Linked DNA regions of Homo sapiens. The protein of the gene in region 5 interacts with the protein of the main gene of each other region in a pairwise test. Each region holds a gene or a part of one and is shown on either strand. Other genes may lie near its edges.

Region 1 (4,241 bases), on a different chromosome or scaffold from region 5:
CGCCCGGTCAAGAAAGATACTGGGATCCATACTTAGGGATCAGTTAGCCCCTGCAAGTTCAGGCACCTGTTTTGGGTCACACCCTGGCCCCCTCTTTCCCCTCAGCCTCTTCCCCACTCCAGCCCCAGAAACTCACACTCCTCCCGCATGCCAGCCTGACGGCATTTGCGAAGCCGACACTCCTGGCACTTGCGACGCATGTAGGTGTCCATGGGGCAGTGGCCGCCACTGTGGCAGATGTAGTGCGCTCCCTTGATGACGCTGCGGCGGAAGAATCCCTTGCAGCCCTCGCAGCTCAGAACATTGTAGTGGAAGCCCGAGGCCTTGTCCCCACACACGCTGCATAGCTCGTTCCCCAGCATTTTGGGGGCTGGCCCCTTTTTCCGCTTTTGTGGACGGATCTCTGGATACAGGAAAGTGCTTCAACGCTCTCCCCCGAGGAAAAACATCATGTTCTCCCTGACTCAGCCACTGCCCTGGGCACTCAGTGACCTTCATTCCCTTCATTATACAAACTCCAGTCTCTCTTTTATGAGAAGAGTAGCCCTCATTTGCCAAGTGCCATTATGTTCTAGGTACTGTATGAGCCTTTTATATGCACTGATCCTTATGACAACCATAATTTTTATTTCCATTTTATAAACAAGGAAAGTGAGGCTCAGAAAGGCCTAGAGACAAAATTCACACTTAGATCAGTCAGATTTAGTTAGCTCTAAAGCCTCTGAACTTAACCATGAGATTATATATAAAGTAAAAACCCCCAAGGAACCTCTTCCAGATCCAGGACCTGGAATCTGGACCCCTACCTCCTCCAAACCCAGAAGCTCCTCACCTGTGGGTTCTGAAGGGGGCTCTGCCCTGGTGAGCAGGGCTGTGGGCTCTGCAGCCTCCAGCCCCACCCCTGCAGTACCCCCAGCAGAGTGGGGCATCCTGGCTTCCTCTCTGAGGATGCAGCTGCTGCCTCCCTGGGCCTGGCTGCTTGCATCCTGTGCGCCTGGCTTCCACAGCTCCACCGCAGAGTCTGAGCTCCAAAAGAGAGGCACAAGGGGGTCTCAGGCCCCATCCCGGCTCCACGGCCCAGCGTCCTAGCTGGGAAACTGCAAACTTATCCCCACCCTTAGAGGGCAGCAAAGTCCCAGCTCAGGCTTTGGGACCCTAGAGTCTGTGTGGGCTCTAGCTAGGACTAGTCACTTGTAGTTTCTTACATCTCAGGACCTTAAATGAAGATGTTAATCCTTGTCCCTTTGGGGGGCTGGAGTGTATGCATTTCAGAGATCAGATAAAACTCTTCAAAGCCAGAGCAGGGTAAGCACTCAGCTGGCCAACTCTCTAGCAGCAAATCCAGACTGGGGAGGACTGGGCGGGTGCCTGCAAGGGCCAGGCACTGGAACCAGGGGAGAGGTGATCTGGGCGGGAGGCAAGCACGACTAAGAATGACTCTGGACTGCTCTCTGGAGGAAGGAAGAAGGCAGGTAATGAAGGAGGCTGATTCCTACAGGAGGCGTGGAGCCTGCGGTCTGGGCTCAGGGGAGAGGGATGGAATGAAGCTTACCAGGAGGAATGTCAGGCACAGGGGCCCCCAGCCACAAGGACATCTCTTCCTGGAGCCCTGGTCATTACCAAGGCACTGTCCTGCAGGAAGGACCCAGATTATACTCTTCTAGAACTGGGCTCCTTTCTGGCCTCAGCTCCCTTCTCCACCTGATCCTCCCTTTTATCAATATCAACAATATCAGCTAACATTTACTTGCCATATATTAGCCTGTACTAAGGCTTTATTATATTACTATTATGTTTTTTAGAGACAGGTTCTCCCTATTTTGCCCAGGCTAGTCTAGGAATTCCTGGGCTCAAGTGATCCTCTCACCTGGGCCTCCCAAAGTGTGGGGATTATTGGAGTAAGCCACTGCGCCCAGCCTGTTATAAGGCTTTATGTGCTTTCCTCATAATATCCCTCTGAGGTCAAAACTATTAATTTTTTTTTTGAGATGGGGTCTCTCTATGTTGCCCAGGCTGGAACTCAGTGCTATTCACAGGTGCAATAATAGGACACTATCGCCTCAAACTACTGGGCTGAAGCAATCAGGTTTCAGCTTCCTGAGTATCTGAGATTATGGGCGCACGCTACTGCTCCTGGCTCAGGACTATTCTTAAACTCATTTTACAGATAAGCAAACTGAGGTTCAAAGAGATTAAGTAACTATGGTCACACAGTTAGGCGGCGGTAGAGTCAAGACTCCAACCCTCCTCTGACTCCAAAGTCTGGGCTCCCAGCCACCGTGCCGGCTTTTCTCCCCCAAAGTCCCCTCCAGGCCAGCAGGGAATGTTTGGGTGCATCTGCCCTGCTTCTCTTGGGCCCCTTCCCCCTCACTCCAACACTGAGGACAGCTCACTCCACCCAGTGAAACACGCTGCTTATTAGAGAACCTCGCTCGTGCCACTTTCCAGGGTCCCAGCACAAACCTGTCTCCAAGAATCTCCCCAATTCACATAGAGGACCTCCTCCCCTGAGCCCCTCATGAGTTATTCTGGGACCCAGAGTCCTGCTCCTGTCCCAAGCTTCCATCACCATCACCCCTCACTTCTCCCCAGAAACCCCCTTCTCAGATCCTTAGGACATTCCCCGACCCCACCCCAGATACACACACAGAGCCCCAGGCCACTGCTAAGGAGCAGACCCACCAAATCCCCAGGCCACCAGACTTCCTGGGTGGGCAGTCTCTGGAGCCCCCTTGCTGGGAGAAGAGGATGGTGCAGTTTCCTGTCCAGAAGTCTCGGTGGCCAGCCAGTGAGCTGGAGCTGAGCACAAGCAGGACCTGGAGCCCCAGAGAAGTAGCAATTTGGGGAAAGGCTGAGGGGAGGGACTGCCGAGGGGTCAGGCCACCCCTCCTTCCTGCCTGGTGACCACAGCCCTCCCCTCCTCACCCCCGCCCACAGGGCAGCTTCTCCACCAGGCTGGCTCCTCCCCAGCCGGCCACCCCCTCTCCCGCCACTCCCGCCCCCTACTCCCGGCCAAAACAGTGGCATTTCCCTGCAGACCAGCCAAGTTCCATGTCTCTCCCCTTCCTCTCCTTACCCAGCGCTCTTAGCAGCTCTTGCAAAAGGACTGCCTCCCAGGAACCCCCACCCCAATCCCAGCAGCCTCCAGAATCGTGTTCCCTCCCCTCCATAGGCACCTCGTGGAGCAAAGGTCCCAGCACGGCCCGGAATTGCGACACTGAGCCCCAGCGGCTTTCCCAGCCTCCCTCCTCCTCCCTTGCCTCTGGGAAGAGGCCAAGAAGCTCTCCCCACTAGCCCCAGGCCTCAGCCAAGCTGGTAGAAATCCAGGGGTGGAGAGAGGCAGGTGCTGGGCCTTCCAGGGAGTTTCTGAAAGTGGGTGCCCTGCGGGGGCCACAGATAAGAGAGGAGGCCAGGAGAGCCTTTGATAGGAAATCTGCTATGAGCAGTGGCAGGCCTGGGATAGGGGTGGAGGTGGCAGAAGGAAGACAGGCAACTCAGGTGGCAGCCCAGGATGGACCTGGGAAGGTATGCGGGTTGCCTCTTCTGGGGAACAACCCCATCTGAAGTGATGGCAGGCTCCAACCAGCAGCTACTGAGACTATAGTCATTCTTCCTACTCTGCTGCCTGGGGCATGAAATCCATCCCTGAAAGTAGACATCATATTTTATTGATTTCATCTCCCCCAACACCCCTGAAACAGGGCTGGCATAGATGTGGCAACAGAGTAGGTACTGTGTTCCTATTTGTTGAATGAATAACAAGAAAAATATAATATATTCTCGGCCGGGCGCGGTGGCTCACGCCTGTAATCCCAGCACTTTGGGAGGCCGAGGCAGGCGGATCACGAGGTCAGGAGATCGAGACCATCCTGGCTAACACGGTGAAACCCCGTCTCTCCTAAAAATACAAAAAATTAGCCGGGCATGGTGGCAGGCGCCTGTAGTTCCAGCTACTCGGGAGGCTGAGACAGAAGAATGGCGTGAACCCGGGAGGCAGAGCTTGCAGTGAGCCGAGATTGCGCCACTGCACTCCTGCCTGAGTGACAGAGCGAGACTCTGTCCCCAAAAAAAAAAAAAAAAGAAATATTATTCTCGTCTATCCCGTACTTATTAGCCCTAGTCAATTTTTTTTATTATTCCTTTTTTTTTTTTTTTTTACCTTTTTTGGGGTAGGGTCTCACTATGTTGCCCAGGCTGGCTTCACACTCCTGGGCTCAAGCCATCCTCCCACCTCAGCCTTC
Region 2 (3,517 bases), on a different chromosome or scaffold from region 5:
CTCATGAGCCAGAGGTTACTTGAAGTCACACAAAAAGGTGTAAAGAATATATTTAAAGATGCAATATTAGCTACTTTGGAGCCTTCAGGACCAAGAAAGAGAAGAATATGTGTGTATTGCTGTGAAAATCCTTGTGGAGCCCTTTCTGAACATCTAGCATTTGCATCGTAGTGAAGGCAATATTTAAATTACACTGAATAAATATTAAGCCATTTTTTTGCAATCATTATGACTGTCCTGTACCCACTTATATGCATTCAAGGCGAGAAAACACTGGAAATCCCCCCTTGCCCCTTCTAAGTCATTTGGAGACTAGCTCATCAGGAGTAACAATGTATTATCAGAAAATTGATCATTACTGGACTTTTTTATTTATGCTTACTATTTTTGGTTTGGTTGCGATTAAAAGCAAGTCATGCCTGTGCTGAATGGAACAGATATGCAACATCGTGGACTATAATAGGATCTCTGTAGATCACTGCTGTGAAACCAGATATGTGGAGTTGCAGTGAGTGGTAGTGCCAGAAGACAGATGTCTGTGGGTTCCTGCGCTCTTTTAAGAGGTGCGCTCGTTAGGAAACTGAGGGAGGAGACGTTAGCCCATGGGCAAGGCTGAGGAGACACTTTTATCTCCGCTTTGCAGAAGAGGAGGGCCTCAGCCAGCCTGCTGGGATTTTCTGGTATCATAAAAACCATGAAAAAGACTTTAGTGGATACATTAGATTAATAGATTTTATCAGTAGAAGTTTTTGGTTTGCATTTTCCACTTTCAAATGTTTCTAATGTTAGCATTTAATATTTTTATTTTCTCCAAATATTAATATTTGTACATTAATAATTTGAACCTGTGATTTCTCATGTCTGAAATCTGTTTATAAATTATTTCCAGAAACACTAAACAAACAAACACCTTAAAAACAAACAAACAAACAAAAAGCTCTGCTGGAGATTCAGAAGCACAAGCCTATGGATTCTATTGATAGCAAATTAAATTAAAACATAAAGATCCTTGTTTTTGTCTGTCAAACTGACCAAGATTAAAAAAGAAAACAAATGTTGATCAGAAAGTTTAAGTTATTATTGTCTTATTAGAACACAATTTGATAGCGCAATATGAAAAGCATTAATACTTTTTATGCCAGGAATTCTATTTTTAGAAATGTAGGCAAAGGACAAATTTGGAAATGTTGACAAAAATTTATGAATGAGCAGGTTCAGGCAATATTATTTATAAAAATGAAAAGTTTAAAACTTGAAACGGGCCATGTGCAGTGGCTCATGTCTGGAATCCCAGCATTTTGGGAGGCCAAGGTGGAAGGATAGTTTGAGACCAGGAGTTCAAGACCTGCCTAGGCAACATAGCAAGACCCCCGCATCTCTACACAAAATAATAATAAGTAAAAAATTATCCAGGTGTGGTGGCACATGTTTGTAGTCCCAGCTACTTTGGAGGCTGAAGTTGAAGGATCGCTTGAGACCAGGAAGTCAAGGCTGCAGTGAGCTAGGATTGTGCCACTGCACTCCCGCCTAGGTGGCAAAGCAAGATCCTGTCTCACAGAAAAACAAAAACAAAAACAAAACCCTCAAAAACCATGAAATGTTCAAAAGGCAGGGCTTAGCTAAATACATCAGAGTAGTTCCACTCAATACTAAGCCATGCAGCCATTACAATCATATGTTTAAAAATATTGAATTGCATGGAAAAATGTACATATTCTAAATATACGTTTCTGAACTGAAAAAAGCAAGATATGATATTGCATATGCAATATCATTCTACATTTCAAAATTCCACATTTATGCATTTAAGAAGACTGGAAGAAAATACAACAAAATGTCAACAGTTAACTCTGGACCATTTAATATAATAATGGGCAATTTAAAATTCTATCGTTATGTTCCTCTCTAGTTTCTAAAATTTTTTTACAGAAAATATAAATGCCTTCATATTAGAAAAACAAAAAGTGTTCTTATTTAGGTACAGTGCCTTGCATAAGTGGAAACTAACCTCCTTTCTTTCTCTTGGGCTCCCTCTCCTCTTACTGATTTGATTGGTATTCCAATTACCACCTTCTGTTTTGCCTTATATTTATTTGTGCATATTTCTGTCCATCTTTGATTATGAGGCCCTAAGAGTTCACATCTCCCACAACCCTTGGAAGCTGACATCTATTACCTGATAAGTATTCACATATTTGAAGAATAAAATTGAGTTATATGCATTCTTCTAGACTATGCACATGAAGGAACATGAAAAACAGCCATGTGGTTAAGAGTTTTCCTATGAACAAACCACAAAATGGATAATCGTACACATGGTAGATGATTAAGGGATAACTATCAATTTTCATAGTAAATTCAGTCCTAAGTTTATATCTCAGTGTATCTTTTTTTCCAAAAACTAAGTGGGTATAAGAATCTGTCTTCTGATGAGCTCTGCTGTGTACATTTCACCTTTGTTGACTCCCAGGAGCCCTTCCCTAGCTTTTCCTTTACACTGGACCGAGTTCTCTGTTCTGCTCCATGGAAAGCCGCATTCAGTAATCAGATGTATCCCACAGGAAAAGATGCCATGGGTACCGGAAAAACAAAAAGCACAAACTAAACTTTTTGAGATGGCCATCTGAATAAATTTTGAATTGAAATGCTTTATTAGTAAAGAATCCTTTTCTTAATTTTTAGAAAGAGAGAACCTGCTTGCATTATGCTGTGAAGAAAAAATTTACCTTCATTGATTATCTACTAATTATCCTCTTAATGCCTGTTCTGCTTATTGGGTATTTCCTCATGGTGAGTACAACACTTGTAGAGCAAAGGGCAAATGTGGAGATCGATGGTGTGACTCATTGACTCTTGCCAGGCCAGTGAGATGTTGAAAAGAAATAAAAACAAAAAAAGCCTTTGGTTTGTATTCTGTAATTGACATGTTCAACATACATCCAATGCTATAATTGAAGTACAGCAAGAAGAAAGCTAGCAAAAATAGTTAATCAATGGTAACATAATCCATGCAATGTTGATTTAGAAAAATAATTTAACCTTAACTAAGACTTTTCTGAAGGGAGCAAAAAAATTCTGAATATTAAAAAACACCCCTTCTAATATTTTTTTCTCCTTTTTTTAAAAGAGGAGTTTGTGTTTTTGGATTTATCTTTCTGACTTACTGATTTTTAAGTACTCCTCTGGTGGTGTGTTGAAAAACAGATCCTAAAAGTTTGCATCCAGAAGCTGACACACACAGAAGATACTTGTTGAGAATTTAAGCCCATTTTCACCTTGATGAATTTCTTCATGCTTGGATGAATCTTGGCAGACAGCAATTTTCTTGAATAAAGAAAGATGTAGTTGGTATAGAGATGCAGTCATATGAGGAGTAGAAGATGAAGCTTGAGATGGTTTTTGGTTTTTTTTCCCAATAGGGTAACAGATCTGCACTGACTTACTCACTTTTATCCATCTAGTTTCCTTTGTGCCCAGTTCCACTTCTCAGACATGACTCAAGAGATGCATAATTTAC
Region 3 (3,517 bases), on a different chromosome or scaffold from region 5:
TGTATGTGGATACACAGACACACCCCAAACTCCTCCTTGCCCTTGGACAGGGAGTGTGGTGGGTACACTGAGAGGCTGGACAAGTGTTCCTTAGAGCCAGTGGCCTTACTGCCTGGAGTACCCTCTATCTTAGCCCTGCCAGGCCTGGCCTGAAACTGACTGAGGAAACTTTAACCACTTGTTGGGTAAACCTTGTCACACCCACAAGTATTTCTCTGTTGTATGGTGAAACACATGAGCCCTTTCCCTCAGACAGCCCAGGGTACCCCCTGGGTCCTCTCCCCCAGCCTCTCCAGCCCTTTGGTATCAGTAGGTACAAGATAGCAAGTCATAAGGCTACCTGGCAACCAGATGGTTCTGTGTTGTTGTCACCTTGCTTTTTCAGATTAAGGGCTCAGGATGGTACAGGCAGGGATCCCATCTTGAAGAGGAAGTGAGGGAGCCCATGGGCCATAATGACTTTGAGGCCTGGTAGAATGGGCTCCAGGCCCCCTTAGTGGTGGCTGAGCTGTCTGTTTGCTGAGGACCTGCTAGGCCCACTGGCATCAGAGCTGCCTTCTTGAGTCTGTCCTTCCTTTCTGGAACATTCTGTGTCTTTCTCTCCAATCCTCCTGCACTTAGACCCAAGTGGTCTTCTCCACGCGCTGTGTTCAGTATTTACTACTATTCTCAGGAGGCCTGGGCTCCCAATCTGCTGAGTATGCTAGTGGGCTGAGGGGCCAAAGGAGTGGGCTGCAGGCCCAGTGGAACATGTGCAGAGTCAGGGAAGCAGCTTAAAGCAAAGGGAGAACGATGGTGGGGACAAACCCACCTGCACGGACCACACCAATCCGTCTGCTGGTTGAGGCCAAAGCGAGCACGGCATTTCTTAGGCGAGCCAGGGTCTGCTCACAGCCATGCCAGAGGGGTAGAGCAGGGCAGAGGGCGAGCAGGCAGCGGGGCAGAGCAGGGCCCAGAAAGAAGAGGTAACATCAGTGTTAGCCAGTTATAGACACCCTACAGCCCCCATAGGCAGAGTGGGCCTCTCCATGGCACAGCCAGCCCCAGTGGGAGCCCAAGAGCCCAGAGCCAAGATATCAGGAAAGGTGGGCACCCAGGTACGCAGTAGAGGCAGTGGGAAGAATGGGAGGGAGGGAGTCCTGTCAATCTGGCTCATCTCTGTGGCTTGTGGGGCCCTTGCAGCATGGAGGCTGCAGAGGGGCCCAAGGAAGACCATGGAGATCCAGCCTTTTATGCCCTAGGGCCACCCACCTCCTCCCCAACTCCCTACCCATTTTATCCAGTTTTTCTTCATTCTTGACCTACATTCCTTCAAGGGATAAGGCTGAAGGCTATACCTTATGCTGTTCTACACACTTGCAGATGGAAGGAAGGGCCTATTCTTTGCCTTGGAAAAAGGGCTAGGAACTCTGCCCTGCTCTGTCCCAGTCCTAGCCTCCAGCTTCCCTGTGTGGGGACAGCACGGCTGAGGTGGTCAGGGATGTGGAGTCTCAGTTACCAGAGAGGCAGGAATTCACCCTTAGGAAGGAGGCCTGCAGCAGGGTGTGGGCTTCTCTACATAGAGCACTTTGCACTGCCATGAAAAATGTTGAAGTGGGGGTGATAAATTGCCAGGCTCCAGCCAGTAGGCTGTGTGTCTACTGGGCCTAGTCATGGGGCCTAGCTCAGCCTCTCCCAGTCTCAGCAGAACTAGCCAGGACATTGTTTGGGCTAAGCATCAAACCATACAGTCAGTTCTTTGCTGGTTTCTCTGGTGAGTGGAGCTAGCAAAGGTAGTGGGTGCAAGGCAGAGGAACGCACCATCTACTCCAATTCTACCCAGCAGAAGCCAGTTCTGCTGGGTTTCCCTGGGACTTAGTATAATATAGCTGTTTCTTGCATGGGAATTTGACTTGTGAGATGCAGGCCTTGTTTTCATAGGCCCCAGGCCCTGAAGGCTCCTAGCTGGGTACCGCGTTCCTCCCTTTGGGTCAGAGGAGGGCTGCTCTTGAAATGGGGACATGGAGAGGAGCCTCCACTGCTGCTGAGAGAAGGTCTCACCTGTGGTGGATTCTTGGTGCTTTTCCCTCGACCGCCTCTTCTTCTTCCCCTGCAGGGAACAAAAGGAGGGATGCTCAGATCTGGGAGGCAGACATTGGGATACCCACAGCCTGCTGCCTAGCTTGGGTAACCCTGGGATTCTGGGCGTACAGGCCCCTCCTACCTTGGGGTGCTGGTGTTTCTTGATTGCTGGTCTTGCTAGGCTGCTATGGAGTGCATTTAGAAGCTCTTCCCTCACCCCAATCTGGTCTCCAGTTTGAATGGAAGGAGGTGACTTCCAGACCCCTTTCTCCCCTTCTGCCCATGTGGCCCAATCAAATGTTGGGTAACAGCTCATGTGTGAGCATATTCTGGAGTGGAGAATAGGATGTGGGCTTGTCCTCTTCTGAGGCAGCCATGGGAGGCCTTGGACCCTCCGTGCCCTTCCTCATCGGTGCCTTCAGGACAGTAGTTCTGCGTTCCTTACTGAGATTGTGGCCTGGGGCATGGTATCTCAAAGGGTCCCCTGCCCACCCCTGCTGTGTGTCACTAGGCACTCACGTAGTTGTCCCGCGCTGACCAGCCTGGGTATAGCTGCATGTGCAGCTGCCTCTCCTTGCGGGCCAGCTCATAGTACTTGGCCTGCTCTTCTCGCGACAGCGCGTGCCACTGCAACAGGGAAGAGGGGCAGGTGGGGTGCATCAGGGAGTCAGCAGGCTGCACCAGGCTGAAGATGGTCGGGGAGCATCCCTGCCAGCCCACCTGCCCATGGTCTCACCCTGCGGCCCAGGATCTGGTTGATGGCAGCGCTCTCCTTAAGTGTGCACTCTGCAATGACCTTGGCTCTCATCTCCTTCATGTACAGCATGAAGGCATTGAGGGGCTTCTTGATGGTTGGCTTCTTGGCCTCCTTCTCTGCCTTGGACTCTGCTTGTGTCTTCCTGAGGGGCACAAATCCAGATTGTTCAGGAGCCCCCCGAGTGCCCACCTAATTGCAGCCTCCTCCTCTAGCGTGGGCCTAGAGTGTGCCTAAGTGTATGATACCAGAGTTTTCTAAGTGGAATCTTTCCTAGCTGCCCCCAAATGGGTGAGCAGACAGCTAAGTAACTGTTCCTTATAGGAACACTACAGACAAGTGGGAAAAGCATGTGTTAAGGACTTCTGAGCCCCTCCTCTGTTGGCTCAGAAAAATCCTTGTTCCCCATCCCACCCACCCCCTCCTACTTCTGAGGATCAAAAACATAGCCAGAGGCACGAAACAGCTTAGGCAGGGACCTCGTGGCAGTCCTCAGGCCTGGTGGGGAGGCATGTGTATCCTGACTGACACACCCCCTGCCATCATTGTCTTTTCACTCACAGGTTGCGGTCGAAGGGCTGCAGCTCCTGCTTCCCTGAGGGGGGCACAATGGCCGGGTGGGGGATGGCTGCTGGGTGACCAGGTACACCAGAACCTAGCATCAAGGATGGGTGGGTGAACCTGGAGGCAGGAAGAAAGTTA
Region 4 (3,517 bases), on a different chromosome or scaffold from region 5:
GCTGAGTACTTTAGCACTTTAGCTATATTCTTCCTGGTCTGCTCAGAACAACCACTCTGAGATAGGTACTGGCAGCAGTTCCATTTCATAGGTGAGGGATGGAGGCTCTGAGATTCCGGGTAATACATGCAAAGCCAGCGAAGCTGGGTGGTGGCTCAGGTGTGTCTGTTTAAAAAGCCCATTCTAATTGCTGTGCTCCAGTCCCCACACACTTTGGTGGCGGCAAGGAGCTCTGGGGCAGGGTGTGTGGTTGAGGCTGGAAGGAAGGCAGAAAAGAACAGGCCTAGGGCCCCCGCTTGCACACATTCTTGCCTGTGCTGGTCTCAACTTTGCTGCTTCCCATGTTCCCACATGCCACTCTCTACTGAATCCCATCTCCCCGCAATTCAGAAAAAATAATAATCTGTGTTTGGTGGATTAAAACAATCTGTTCACCCGAATTCTTTTTTCTGATTCTTGAAATAATGTTGACATAGAGTAGTTCTTTCCTCGTTTTGCAAAGGGAACATAGCTGCTCAAGATCACACCACTGGTAAGTGTCTTGGGATATTAAACACATGGAATTTTAAGATTGGCAGGAGTGAATTCTTCATCTAGTCCAGTGTTTCCTAAACTTCAGTCATTTGCCTACGACTGTGATAATTTCACTCAATCCATATACTACGAGCACTATTATTTACTTAAAATACTTAAAAAAATCATCAACTCCCTTTTTGTTTTAACATAAATATGCTAATTAAAAGGAAAACTTTATATTAGCAATATAAATGGAAAGTCAGGATTTTTTAAACATACATAAAAATAAATATTTAAGCATTTGAATAAAAATGGTTCATGCGCCACCTAAATCAGGGGTTAGCAAACTACATCCTATAGGCAAAATGCAGTCCCTCACCTATTTTTGTAAAGCCTGCAGTTAAAAATAATTTTACTGCTGGGCGCAGTGGTTTACACCTGTAATCCCAGCACTTTGGGAGGCCGAGGCGGGTGGGTCACTTGAGGTCAGGAGTTCAAGACCAGCCTGGTCAACATGGTGAAACCCCCGTCTCTACTAAAAATACAAACATTAGCTGGGTGTGTTGGTGCATGCCTGCAATCCCAGCTACTCGGGAGAGTGAGACAGGAGAATCGCTTGAACCTGGGAGGCAGAGGTTGCAGTGAACCGAGATTGTGCCACTGCACTCCAGCCTGGGCGACAGAGCAAGACTATGTCTCACAAAAAAATAAAAAATAAAAAATAAAAAATAAAAAAAACTTTACATTTTTAAGTGGTTACATTTTAAGTGGTTATATAAATATTTACATCATATCCTTGATTTTGCCTTTTGGCCTGCTAATCCTAAAATACCTGGCCCTTTAAGAAAAAGTTTGCAACCCCTAACCAGATTCATCTGGCATGTTGCCAGTTGATGTGAGTACCACGTGTTGGAAGATACTGAGTTAGTCCAATTTCCCTCCTCGCCTCCACCATTTTACAGTTGAGGAAGTTGAGACTCAGGGAATTTGTGTAACTAGCTCAAGGTCACATAGCCAGTGGATGCCAGAGTTAAGTGGCAGGGAGGTCCTTAGTTTTCTGACTCTCAGCCCATCTGCTTCTCTTTCTGAAAACACAATTGAGCCCCAAGGCACACTTATATAGCAAATCAAACCTCAGTACTAAGAGGGGCAGGATTGTGTGATTCTGAAACCAAAGGTCAATTCTTTGCAGATGCTTGAAAATCTCCAACCACCATCATCATCACCATCAAATGTGCATGAGACGCCGGGTGCGGTGGTTCATGCCTGTAATCCCAGCACTTTGGAAGGCCAAGGTGGGCAGATCGCTTGAGGTCAGGAGTTCGAGACCAGCCTGGACAACATGGCGAAACCCCGTCTCCACTAAAAACACAACAATTAGCTGGGCATGGTGGTGCACACCTGTAATCCCAGCTACTCAGGAGGTTGAGGCATGAGAATCACGAACCCAGGAGGCAGAGGTTGCAGTGAGCTGAGATCGTGCCACTGCACTCCAGCCTGGGTGACAGAGTGAGACTCTGTCTCGAAAACAACAACAACAACAACAAAAACGTGCATGAGAACTCCTCTCCAGATGTAAATATATAACCGAGTTTGAATTCTGACACTTAGGCACCTTTTCTGGGCCATCACCCAAGAGTTTCCAGACTCTGCTGGGAAGTCTCTTTGCTGATGCCTGGAGAGGGTTAATGTGCTCTGCAGATTATCGTGGGCATGGATCTCCTCCTGGGAGCCCAATCAAACAGATGTCAAGGCTGCCTGGGTTTGGGCTGTGATTTTCCCACGGATTGGCTGGTTTTATATCCTGAGTGAGGGGGGCAGGGAGGGGGTAGGATGCTGAGGGATGGGGTGAGAGGTTATGAGGAAGGGAAGGGCCTCAGGAGCTGAAAGCCACTTCTGCTTTCTGGACTGGACTTCAGAAAAGTTCCTTTAAGTGAGGGCTGAAGACAAATATATCCCTTTTCTTCTGGGCCAGAAGGCTCAGAAAACTAAAGAAGAGGATGGCAGGCCTGTGATATGACCTTCTTTGGGTTGGGAGAAAGGAGAGGTGAATTCCACACGGAAGAAAACAGAAAACAGTCCCCAGGTCTTCAGTGTCAAATAAGGAATCCATCAAATACAAAACACGACAGTGGGAATGAGATCTTCCTCATCTATGCCTCACTAATTGCTCTCAAAAGTCATTGGGTATTAACAAAAAAAAAGGTCATTTGGTAAATTGAATGGCATTATATAAAAACTAGAAATATTTTTTGATCAATAGTATTTTTACCTCTTTTAATATTGTTATTCTTTCTCCTCTTTATACCGGCCTACTCACTTGATCTGTAATCTCTCTAGTGCTATACACAATGCTGTATCTGATTCCCTTTGGTAATTCCTTCTAAGGCAAATTATATCCATTAAGTTTTTGTAAAGGGCCTTCTCAGGTGTACAGCATGCTATTTTTCTTCTGTAATTATTTCTTGCTTTTGGAAAAAATATCTTTTATAAAAGCAGAAAAAGGTGTTTTTTTTTTTTTTTCCTGTTACAGCAGGAGTGGGTGTTATTAACTCTGGGCTCTCCACAAAAGACCTTGGCTACTTAGCCAGCATGCAGTAGGTGTGAGAGTTCAAGAATAATGGCTGCTTTGTATTCAGTAGCCTCTCTTCTCTAGGCCCTCTAAGGTCCTTGCAATAATTGAACATTTTAGCTCTTAAGGACTTCTTTAGTGGAGGTAGAGCAGGATAGGTGTGAAAAGGCAGATGTCCAGAGCCCCCTTTCTCAGAAGTAACACTGAGGCCCAGGGATATGTGAACACAGGCCTGAGGTTAGGCCAGGCCTGCTCAAGGGGGGTGATATTGCCCCCCTCTTTAGGGAACAAAGATGAGTTCTTGGGGATCAAAAAACTGAGTTATTAATTACAGTGTTTTATCATGCTCCAAAGGTCTACAGTAGATGTATAGTTTATCTCTGGTACTCACATTTCTGGTGGGGAGATGATTAAGAAAAAATGACCTAA
Region 5 (3,517 bases):
AGCCTCCCAAGTAGCTGGGATTACAGGCACGTGCCACTACCACCTGGCTAATTTTTTTTTTTGTATTTTTAGTAGAGATGGGGTTTCACCATGTTGGCCAGGCTGGTCTTGAACTCCTGACCTCAAATGATCCACCCACCTCGGCCTCCCAAAGTGCTGGGATTGCAGGCGTGAGCCACTGTGCCTGGCCGAGGCTAATTTTTTCTCTTTTTTTGTAGAGATGGGGTCTTGCTGTACTGCCCAGGCTGGTCTCAAACTCCTGGGCTCAAGCAGTCCTCCTGCCTCGGCCTCCCAAATTCAGATTTGTTTTTGAAACAGGGTCTCACCCAGACTAGAGTGCAGTGGTGCAATCACGGCTCACTGCAGCCTTGACCTCCTGGGCTCAAGCGATCCTCCCACCTCACCCTCCAAGTATCTGGGACTATTGGCACACGCCACCACACCCAGCTAATATTTGGATTTTTGTAGAGATGGAGTCTGGCCATGTTGCCCAGCCTGGGTCTTTAGATTTTTTTTTATAGATTGAAACCCATCACCCTGGTCGTCCCCGCTCCCATTTTCTTACTGTAGCAGGCTCGGGGGCAGATGGTGTTTGCATTGGCTCCCAGTGGGGCCAGCTTGGAGGAGAGCCTTCCTGCATAGCAGGCCCAGCATAAGGCTCTGATGCCAGGCCTGGCACAGGCCCGGCCGCAGCGATGCCAGTGTGTGACTGAACAAATGAACCTTTGGCCCTGTCTACGTTGTTAGCCCCAGGCTTGGCCAGTGGCTTCTGGAAAGTCGTTCGCTGCCCCGCAGAGATGTGAGCAGAGGTTGTTTGCTTGCTGTTGTCCCTCCTACCCCCTGTCCGGGCTGGGGTGGACGTCTGTCTTCCTTTCACTCATTACTATAGGGGTGTAATCTGTGTCTTGATCTCTTTTAGGGCCAGTATGGAAATTACCAGCAGTAAGGGACACACATTCTGGCTGGAGCCCTTGTGGTAGCGTGTTCATCCAGGGGCCGGATGGGCTGGCGGCAGCTCTGGTGAATTGTGACATGTTGGTTACCTGTTCGCCCAGTGCCACGTCTGCATGTGAAGCGTGCTCATTTCATGCTGGGTATGACGCCGAGCGCACACCACTGGCGTGAGACAGCGCTTGGTGGTGTGATACTTTTGGTGCTGTGTATAGTATTGTATGTCGGTACACGGAGAGGTATCCTTTTTTTGTCCCCCGCCCCCTTCTCAATGTTTCTAGCTAGCTTTGGGGGTCATTTTGTCATCAGAGCATTCTGTGCCCAGGGACAGGACAGATCTCGAGGACACCACAGTCCACCTGTTCCCGTCAACAGACGTTAGGTCTCATTTTCCTCCTCATGCAGTGTTGTAGTGTGGGTTGTCAACTTTTCTTTAACTGGCTACGCCACAGCTGGACACACATGCAGCCCCTGGAGGGCAGCCTCTTCCTGTGCCTCGATGGGGTGGGTGGGAGGGCATCTTCTGTGCGTTGGGTCAGTTTCTGTTACGTAACGAAAAGGATAAACATCTCCCACGGGAGAGGCCACAGATGGCCACTTCCAGAGCTTGCCCATTGCCTGTCTCTCGCCAATTCCGTTTATCCAAAAAGGTACATGTTTTTGTATTAAAAAGTAAACAGGGATCAGTGACTGTATTCCAAATAAATATGAATCCCTAAGGGCCGTGGACAAATTGCCTAACCCAGGGCCAGCGGTATTGCTGAAGGAAAGGGGCAGCTCTCTGGGAAGTGGGCCCTCAGAGATTACTCTGGCTTTGACCCTTGTTTAGCTGATGGTCATTTCTGGGATTGGAATATTTAATAAGCCCAATTCTAAGTTGATAGGTAATTTTAAATATTCAAACCAAATCTTCCCAACAGTTGGCAAGTTGTTTATTTTATATTATTTCTTCCAGGACCTACTTGCTCAGATCTCCAAGCAAGCATTTCTTTTCTTTTAGGGATGTCTGAAAGTCACATCCAGTTACATTACTGTGTTCTTTCTAATGAAAAGTAAAGGTTTTATATAGAGAAACTTGAGTAATTTTTACATTTCTAAGACATTAAATCCCATTTAAATTCTGTGTGAACATTAAAGACAGCACACTTGCAAAAGTATGGTCAAAGGAAAAAAATCCCACATTTCAATTAACAAGTAGCATGGACATTTGATCAACCTTTAGTTGGAATAATAATATTCATATTTGCTATGAATCCTTTTAAAAAAATCTTTGGATAAATGCTGACAGATTTCCAAGAACTACCAAGAAAATACAAGAGATATCCAATGCTTGATATATGAGGCCTAGTAATAACGATATTTCTCTTTAATTGATGTTTTGTTTTAAAAGTTAAAAGTAATTCTTGGCGTGGTGGTTCACGCCTGTAATCCCAGCACTTTGGGAGGCCGAAGCGGGCGGATCACCTGAGGTCGGGAGTTCGAGACCAGCCTGACCAACATGGAGAAACCCCGTCCCTACTAAAAATACAAAATTAGCCAGGTATGGTGGTGCATACCTGTAATCCCAGCTACTCGGGAACCTGAGGCAGGAGAATGGCTTGAACCCAGGAGACAGAGGTTGTGGTGGGGCAAGATCGCACCATTGCACCCGAGCCTAGGCAACAAGAGTGAAATTCCGTCTCAAAAAAATAAATAAATAAATAAATAAATAAGTTAAAATTAATTCTTTATCCAGAGTCGGGTGCTTTAGAATTTATAAGTCACTTATGTGTTTTGCTTGAATTAATTCTGACAGCCCCTATGAGGAAATCTGGAGGCAGGTAACAGTTCCCATTTTAGAGATGAAGAACTGAGGCACAGATTAAAGGACTTGCCTGTGTTGAATACCAGTCCTGTTCTAGGACATTCTCCCCTCTCCTAGGAGACGGATGTCACGCACAAATGGGGAGAGAAGTGTTTATTTTGTAGGCACTAAGGGTTTCTAAAACCCTTAACACTGGTAAGGGCTCAAAAATAAACGTATGTGTTCATATTCGATCACCGAAATGAGAGTTCTTAATTGCTAATTGACAAACGCGTTAGCAATTTCAGTTAGGGAGTCATCTCCCTTGATTGTGTTCTTTTCCTGTCAATTTTCATAGACCTAATTTGCAAACTCAATCGGGGACTAAAATTTCCCACTGAAAATGTTAAACATTTTAGATAACTGTGAAGATAGTTTATTTTTATTCCTTGCCAATCTGGGAATATGCCTTTTTTGTGTGTTTGTGTGTTTTTTTAAGTGCTGTATTAATAATACTTTCTGAAAGAAAAGGACACTTACCCCAAAACTTCAATCTGAAATGTCTTACATTAAGAATATCTTGAATGTTGTGTATATATTTTAAAAAGCACTTTGCAAAATAGTTTGTACATTTATTTCCTAATTTATACATGATTTTTGGTGTTAATATATTTAATGATTAATAACAGAATGTTTATTTAATGTGCTGTCCATTTTTATGTAATATTATGGGGAAAGTGATGCCAGCAGTTCCTTTTCATTATTCTATCTTCTGTCATATGA

The links.
Region 1: the proteins of SS18L1 (region 5) and NR1H3 interact in a two-hybrid assay, tested with the Homo sapiens proteins (one large-scale study listed by BioGRID and IntAct).
Region 2: the proteins of SS18L1 (region 5) and ANKRD22 interact in a two-hybrid assay, tested with the Homo sapiens proteins (one large-scale study listed by BioGRID and IntAct).
Region 3: the proteins of SS18L1 (region 5) and TCF7 interact in a two-hybrid assay, tested with the Homo sapiens proteins (one large-scale study listed by BioGRID and IntAct).
Region 4: the proteins of SS18L1 (region 5) and ELF5 interact in a two-hybrid assay, tested with the Homo sapiens proteins (one large-scale study listed by BioGRID and IntAct).

The regions. Positions count from the first base shown.
Region 1 is NC_000011.10:47,256,571-47,260,811, reverse strand, and holds the start of NR1H3 (oxysterols receptor LXR-alpha), read right to left. Parts: upstream 2,817-4,241; 5' UTR 2,683-2,816; exon of another isoform or gene 1,633-2,682; 5' UTR 1,596-1,632; coding exon 1,553-1,595; intron 1,027-1,552; exon of another isoform or gene 1,022-1,026; coding exon 833-1,021; intron 404-832; coding exon 137-403; intron 1-136. UniProt on the Homo sapiens protein: Nuclear receptor that exhibits a ligand-dependent transcriptional activation activity.
Region 2 is NC_000010.11:88,827,832-88,831,348, reverse strand, and holds part of ANKRD22 (ankyrin repeat domain-containing protein 22), read left to right. Parts: intron 1-2,682; coding exon 2,683-2,790; intron 2,791-3,517.
Region 3 is NC_000005.10:134,142,164-134,145,680, reverse strand, and holds part of TCF7 (transcription factor 7), read right to left. Parts: intron 3,497-3,517; coding exon 3,377-3,496; intron 2,961-3,376; coding exon 2,798-2,960; intron 2,689-2,797; coding exon 2,581-2,688; intron 2,090-2,580; coding exon 2,041-2,089; intron 885-2,040; coding exon of another isoform or gene 670-884; exon of another isoform or gene 1-669. UniProt on the Homo sapiens protein: Transcriptional activator involved in T-cell lymphocyte differentiation. Necessary for the survival of CD4(+) CD8(+) immature thymocytes. Isoforms lacking the N-terminal CTNNB1 binding domain cannot fulfill this role.
Region 4 is NC_000011.10:34,507,288-34,510,804, forward strand, and holds part of ELF5 (ETS-related transcription factor Elf-5), read right to left. Parts: intron 1-3,517. UniProt on the Homo sapiens protein: Transcriptionally activator that may play a role in regulating the later stages of keratinocytes terminal differentiation. Isoform 2 binds to DNA sequences containing the consensus nucleotide core sequence GGA[AT].
Region 5 is NC_000020.11:62,178,263-62,181,779, forward strand, and holds part of SS18L1 (calcium-responsive transactivator), read left to right. Parts: intron 1-919; coding exon 920-946; 3' UTR 947-3,517. UniProt on the Homo sapiens protein: Transcriptional activator which is required for calcium-dependent dendritic growth and branching in cortical neurons. Recruits CREB-binding protein (CREBBP) to nuclear bodies.